2 linked regions of the Homo sapiens genome follow. The protein of the gene in region 2 interacts with the protein of the main gene of each other region in a biochemical or structural test. Each region holds a gene or a part of one and is shown on either strand. Other genes may lie near its edges.

Region 1 (3,648 bases), on a different chromosome or scaffold from region 2:
ATTTTCATGAAACATCTTGTTCTAAGTCATTGCTTTCTTTTTTATTTTCTACCAGCACTAAAATAGGCAGGACTAAGTTGTTATTCACTATGTCAGCAAACGGGGGTAAAAATACTATTTCAACACCTAAGACCCGTCAGAGAGCAGCTAAGGTGCGGAACTGAAGTACAAGAGGCCTCAGCCCAAGGTCGGGAGAGGACAAGCATTTTTAAGGGTCCAGTGTAACCCAGCCACATGTGCCAGGGATGAAGGGCTTCAGCGTGGTCACCTGGGCTTGTGTCTGCTCACGCCTAGGTCTGCTAGGATCCTCTATGGATATAAACCTAAAAGAATCTCCCATAAAATTTCATACAATAATTAAGTAAGGATACAAGGAATGGGGTAAGACAGTAGACAAGATTATTTTATAATTACTTCCCCGAAATGTTCAATAAATATAAACTGATAATAACATGTATAATTAGTATATATTATCGTAAGCGTTTAAGAGGCAACAGTGAAATATCCATTTAACTGACAACAAAAGTGATTACAATTTACCAAGCATCTGCCCCATGCTAAGCATCACACTAAGCAGTGTACTTTCATCTGCCCAGACACCACACAGTAGATCTTAGCTCAGTTTTGCAAAGGGGGAGACCGAGGCGTGGAGAGGTTTTTCCCAAGGTCAGCCAGCCAGGTCTACCCAACCCCCAAGTTTATGCTTTTGACCATCTCACCATCCCAAGTAGATCATCCTGTTAACCATCATTCAGTCCTAGACACGCAGCATTACTTTTGGATACAAATCAGCCCCATGGCAAGGTAGAAAAATGAGATTTTTAAGAAAGGAAATCTATGCATGGTGTCTGGTGGGTGCTGGAAAGTGTAGAAGAATAAAAGTGATGTCCCTGGAGCTACACTGGATATTTCCAGAAAATCCAGTTACACAGAAGTTGTCAGACACCACTCTTGGCTTCTCTGTATAAAGTAGGAAATGCTGGAAAGAATCCCAGGCACAGTGCAAACTGAGGGAGGGTCTTCTGCGTGCTTGGGGGAGCACAGAGCCAGGGTCCTTTTAGAGAGAGCTCTTGGGTGAGGTCGAACGTGGACGGTCTCCAAGTTCGTCCAGTGAACATTCTACAAGGCTCTACCCCATCTCTTTGCAGAACGGGCTCTGGGGCTGCCAATTCAGATTTGGCCATCTCTTCAAAATAAACAAAGCAGCCGAGGCCATAATTTATCTCTAGGCTGTGGAAAAGCCAGCAAAACTCAAAATCAGACTGCCATCTGTGAAGGTGAAATGAATTATCAAGTGGCACACTAAATGGAATTAATAAATCAAGTTTGCGACTTTGCACACGGAATGAATAATGGGCCACTCTGCTAATTAATCCAGCCCAAAGCAGTCCATTTCCAGTTTAATAAGGGCTTTCACTCACCTTGCCAATCTTGACAGTTTCGGAATGTTCAAGGCCCAGAGCCAGCTGCTCCCAGGTTGGAGCCAGGGCTTTGCAGTGACCACACCACGGAGCGAAGAACTTGATAAAGTGGTCGCCTGGAGTGGAGAGCCAAGGCAGAGACGGGGGAAAGAGGAACTGTAATTTATGTCAGACCTCACTAGAGAGTTAATTGAAGAATCAGATCTTTGTCCTGCTTAGCAAATCTTAGTTCGGCATGAGCACTTTAATTGGTACAAAGGGACTCCATCAAATGTGTTTCTGTTCATGACTTCATAACAATACTCAAAACCAAATTTGTCATCTTTGATGGACAATCAGCAATCAACTCATTATTTGGAAAACTGTAATAAAAGGAAAGAATCAGGCATTTCTCCCACCTCTCCTATATGCACTGTACCGCTGAATAACCAGGTGATAAATGAGGGTGAGTTTCTCTTGGTTAAAAAATGAAGGGACGCTTGAATGAGCCTCGGCACTTGGCAGCCCTAAGGAATGGACGGACCCAGGCTCTGCCTGTCATGGTCGACCACATCCCAAAGAGAGACAACTGGACGTTCTGTGCCCCCACCAGCTATGAGGTCTTCTTGTGCCCCCAAAAAACATCACACTGAAACTGATTTTGTCCCCAGACCCAACTACCAATTTCCAGGAAACAGAGAAATCAGGGAAACATGTAGACCACACTACGGGGACACAATTAGCAAAGTCTGGACCACGGGGAGCTCTACAGGTCAAACCACCTATGTCTTCAGCAAGAAAGATAAAGAGATGTCTGGAGAACATGCAGGTTAAAAGAGCCTTAAAAGATATATAAACACATACACATATAGAACTATAGTGCTCAGGAATGTGCACTTCAGTGCACATAAAGGAGTTGATATGGTTTGGCTGTGTCCCCACCCAAATCTCATCTTGAATTCCCACATGTCGTGGGAGGGACCAGGTAGGAGGTAACTGAGTCACGGGGACAGGTCTTTCCCATGCTGGTCTCGTGATAGTGAATAAGTCTCATGAGATCTGATGGTTTTAAAAACGGGAGTTTCCCTACACAAGCTCTTTTTGCCTGCTGATATCCATATAAGATGTGACTTGCTCCTCCTTGCCTTCCACCATGATTGTGAGGCTTCGCCAGCCACGTGGAACTGTGAGTTCTCCATTAAACCTCTTTCCTTTGTAAATTGCCCAGTCTCGGGTGTGTATTCATCAGCAGTGAAAACGGACTAATACAAGTGGTTTCCACAAATGTCAGGCAAGTGCCTTCTTGGAGAAGGGAGGGCGGGCTGTGCCCTGCATGGGACACGGGAAGCTGGCAGTTTTATTTCTTGAACTGGACAGTAGTTACAGTGTGACCACGCTATAAAAATTCATTAAGCCCTACATTTGTTTTCTCGATCTGTATTATATTTTATCATAAAAAAAAGTTTAAAAAATGAAACATCACCCCCTTGGCTACGGGGAAAAAAACAAACAAACCCTCACAGCATCATTATTTGGACACAGAAGGTGTTTAGCTGTTCTACCCTGACATTGGGCTGATACCAAACTGAAAGCAGGCTGTGGCCGGGGAGAGAACTAACCAGTGGCATGTGGCCTGGCGTCTGAGCAGGACTCTGCCACACTAAGGCTCACAGCTACTGTCTCATCAGCACAGCAACAATGCACTTGAAGAAAATGGTGAAAAACTTCCTTTAAAAGTTAACAACTTCCATTAAAAAATGTGCAAAGCTGAAACCATGTGCAGGTGCACAGTAGATCCTGCACTGTAAGGTGGAGACAGGCTCTCTGGGAACCTAATCAGAGTACTGATGGGAAGCCAGCAAGGGCAGGAAGCCACCATGGTACCTACACGACACAGCTGTGTGGCAGTGACCCACTTAGGGAGGCGCTGGCTAGGCCTGCCGGAGTCGGTCTGTCCTGCCGGAGTCGGTCCGTAACAGGTGATTTGGGAAACACACCCTGCTCAGAGCCCAAGACAATCCCAGCTGAAAATGCATTCCCGTAGCGGAAAGCATGCTAGAGTTCTGCCGTCAGGGCGCTGGTATGGATGAAATAACTTTTAGCAAAAGTGGGAAAAGGCTGAAGGCCTCACGATAAGTTACTGTGGACAGTAAGTGTGGTGGGGGAGGGGCTCTGACTCCCAGCAGGCACAAGTCACAAGGCCAGAGGCAATCCAAGCCATTTCTCACGTTTCCAACCCAGTCTTCTA
Region 2 (3,748 bases):
GGTGCTGTGCTAGCATATACAAACCAATTTATTATGATCAGTTTGTTTATTTATTTAATTTATTTATTTTGAGACAAGATCTTGCTCTGTTACCCAGGTTGGAATGCAAGGGCATAATCATGGCTCACTGCAGCTTCAAACTCCTTGGCACAAATGGTCCTCCTGTATCAGCCTCTTGAGTAGCTGGGACTACAGGCGCATGCCACCATGGCAGGCTAATTTATTTTTTATTTTTATTTATTTATTTATTTTTGTAGAGTAGGGGGTCTCTCCATGTTGCCCAGGCTGGTCTTGAATTCCTGGGCTCAAGCAGTCCTCCCGCCTCGGCCTCCCAAAGTGCTGGGCCATCAAGTCAGGCTAATTTTAAAATATTTTTTGTAGAGATGGAGTCTTGCTGTGTGGGCCAGGCTGGTCTGGTCTCCGAGACCAAGGGATCCTCCCACCTCAGCCTCCCAAAGTGCTAGGATTATAGGCGTGAGCTACCGCGCCGGCCACTGTGATCACTTTAAAGGGCTCTTTACTGAATCTGCCCCTTTCCCCTATGAGACAGATCTTATCCCAACTCCGATCTTATCCCAACTCACCGCTCACCAAGGTCTGACACCTCCTACCCTCCCACACCCATGTCTCTGCCACACCTCACCGACCTCTTTCCATTTCTCCTTCAGGACTTTTCACCTTGGCATTTGCTATTCCCTCTTCCTTGGACATTCTTTCCCCAAATCTTTCCATATGGGACTTTCGCTTGTCGTTCTCGCTGCACTGGTCACGGGTCTTCTGCAATCGGACCCTCTCTGATTTCCCAAGCTTGCCCGCCCCCTTCTTTCTCTGTCTCTGCCCTTCCTGGCACCTATCCCCGAGTGACAGCTTCAGTGTCCTGCCCACACCCTCTCTTCCCCTGGGAGCTGCTTTAAAGCAGTATCTATTTCAATATATCCAAGAGTAAACCGAGCCTTAGAGAAAAGTAACCAGCCCAAGGGGACGCCTCCAGTGCGGAGCTGGGTGGAGATTTGCAGCCCGCCGAGGAAGGTCCCTTTGCAGCCAGCAGGAGAAGTAGGGCAACGGGGAGCCTTTGGGCATCGTCATCCCCGCCGCCTGAGGTTACCCTTTAGATGCTGCAGCCTCAGCTGCTCCCAGCTGTCACCTTCGCCCTGCTGCCCTAAGTACTGATAGTCCTGGTAGACCAGGGCAGGGGTCGCCAGCTGCAGGAGTAGCAGAGGCGCCAGCAGCAGCGCCCCCGGGGTCCGCGCCATGCTGGACTCCAACGGCCCCCAACGCGCTCCCAGGCGGAGTCGTGCGCGGAGTCTGCGGCGGGCGCATTACCCACGCGGGCAGGTGCAGTGGTCCCGGCCGAAGGCAACGCGTCTCCCCCCGCCGCCCGCAGGCGCATGGACCCGGCCGCACGCTCCCCCGCACCTGCGGGCGCAGTGGACCCGACCGCTCCGCTCGTCCGCTCCCTCCCCCGCGCCGTGCACGTCTTGGTTCGGGCCGGGCATAAAAGGCTTCGCGGCCCAGGGCTCACTTGGCGCTGAGAACGCGGGTCCACGCGTGTGATCGTCCGTGCGTCTAGCCTTTGCCCACGCAGGTATGAACACCCGGAGTGCACCTGGCGGGAGGACCCCCTTCAGGCTGCTTTGGCCCGATCCTGACTTTAGTGCTGGCCGCCTTTGCTTTCCATCCGCTATAGTGGCCTCCTTTGTCCTTGCGGGGGAAACCGAGGCCACAGCCTTGCAGCGCAGGCCTGATCGCCCGACTTCCCGCCCCCTGCTCGTGCGGGCCTCACTGTCTCCTTCTGGGCTGGGGGCTTGCGACACCGCCCTCCGGCCGACTCGCTCGTGGGGTGCTGGTGGCAGTGGCTGGGTCACTCGTGCTCTGGTCAGGAGAGCGGGTCTCCGGCAGCCTCCGGGCCTCGTAGACCGGGTACCCGGGAGGGTGAGGGTTAGTGCTGTCGCCTCCGCCGTGCTGACTCAGTCATAGGGCCCAGCACGCAGCGCGACCTTGGGTTGGGAGGACAAAGTGTCTTCCCGGGCGCACTGACCGGGCGGGGGTCTCAGCTTTCAGTCATGGCCTCCGGTAACGCGCGCATCGGAAAGCCAGCCCCTGACTTCAAGGCCACAGCGGTGGTTGATGGCGCCTTCAAAGAGGTGAAGCTGTCGGACTACAAAGGTGAGCGCCGCCCGGAGGGGGCCCAGGTAGAAGCGGGGCCGTGCATGAGAGAAGCTGGGCCCTAACTCCTCTGTGTCCCTCCTCCCCAGGGAAGTACGTGGTCCTCTTTTTCTACCCTCTGGACTTCACTTTTGTGTGCCCCACCGAGATCATCGCGTTCAGCAACCGTGCAGAGGACTTCCGCAAGCTGGGCTGTGAAGTGCTGGGCGTCTCGGTGGACTCTCAGTTCACCCACCTGGCTTGGTATGAGCAGGGGCCAAAGAGGGAGGTTGCAGCTAAGCTCACACCCTCAGGTCCTAGCAGTGTGGCTTCGTGGCCATTGCTCAACCTCTGGAACCTGCGTTTCCCCATCGTGAAAATAATGGAAACATTGCCGCCCAAGTCTTTAAGGATGATGACAGTAATTAGCATTTGACAACTAGTTGCCTGGTATATAGAGTTGCAGATGCAACTCAGATGCAACTCTATCTACTCTATGTACTTAGTTCCCAGGAGGGAGGCTGTGCTGCCCTATTTCATGAAGATGGAAACTCCAGTTCACCGAAGTGAAGGGCTGTACCCCATGACACAGCTAGAGGAGGATGGGGACTCTTAACACAGGCTCTCTGCTGGGTGATGCTGCAAGTTACAAGTACATGTGAAGCCACTTAGCTGGAGCTGTGCCTCTCAAACTCAGTCTTCCCAGCCATGGGGATACAGTCCTTGCACCCAACCCAGGGTGGGGTGGGTGAGGCTCCCAGCGGCCTACTCTAAAGCCCCTTATCTCCGGCCTCCAGTGCTTATCACATTGGGCCCACAGGGTGAGGACCCTGCTGTGCCAGGCATCCTGAGGCCCCAACTCTGTCTCCCCTACTCCCAGGATCAACACCCCCCGGAAAGAGGGAGGCTTGGGCCCCCTGAACATCCCCCTGCTTGCTGACGTGACCAGACGCTTGTCTGAGGATTACGGCGTGCTGAAAACAGATGAGGGCATTGCCTACAGGTACTGTGGGACCCTCAGCCCGGCTCAGGGAGCGCCCTGCCCCCCATTCCTGTGATGCTGGGACCACTCCTGTACAATGTCTTCTCTGCCCCCAGCCCTGTGGCTAGCAGCGGGTGGTTGGTAGTCCCTTCCTTGTCTCTGGCAGTGGGAGCTATCAGCTCCTCACTGGGAACCCTGATGTCTTCAGGGGCCTCTTTATCATCGATGGCAAGGGTGTCCTTCGCCAGATCACTGTTAATGATTTGCCTGTGGGACGCTCCGTGGATGAGGCTCTGCGGCTGGTCCAGGCCTTCCAGTACACAGACGAGCATGGGGAAGGTGAGCAGATACACACATGACACATGGGTACATACTGAGCGCCTCCGTCACTCATGCAAACATTCACTGCCTGTCCTCTTACCTGTCCAGATGGGTGTTAGGGCCCCAAAGAAGATTCAGCTCAGGGCTTTGTCTGCAGGATGTTTCTAATGTGGTAGGAGACAAATAACGCCTGACATTCAACCAAGGTGGACAAAGGGGCCGGGCTCAGTGGCTCACGGTTGTATTGCCAGCACTTTGGGAAGCTGTGGCAGGTGGATCACCTGAGGTCAGGAGTTCGAG

What was found.
Region 1: of the proteins of PRDX2 (region 2) and TXNDC5, one has a biochemical effect on the other in vitro, tested with the Homo sapiens proteins (one study listed by BioGRID).

The regions. Positions count from the first base shown.
Region 1 is NC_000006.12:7,890,200-7,893,847, forward strand, and holds part of TXNDC5 (thioredoxin domain-containing protein 5 isoform 1 precursor), read right to left. Parts: intron 1,538-3,648; coding exon 1,422-1,537; intron 1-1,421. UniProt on the Homo sapiens protein: Protein disulfide isomerase of the endoplasmic reticulum lumen involved in the formation of disulfide bonds in proteins. Can reduce insulin disulfide bonds.
Region 2 is NC_000019.10:12,799,577-12,803,324, reverse strand, and holds the start of PRDX2 (peroxiredoxin-2), read left to right. Parts: upstream 1-1,524; 5' UTR 1,525-1,585; intron 1,586-2,054; 5' UTR 2,055-2,063; coding exon 2,064-2,166; intron 2,167-2,255; coding exon 2,256-2,409; intron 2,410-3,025; coding exon 3,026-3,148; intron 3,149-3,335; coding exon 3,336-3,466; intron 3,467-3,748. Other genes in the region: THSD8 (thrombospondin type-1 domain-containing protein 8 precursor), read right to left, coding at 1,106-1,253.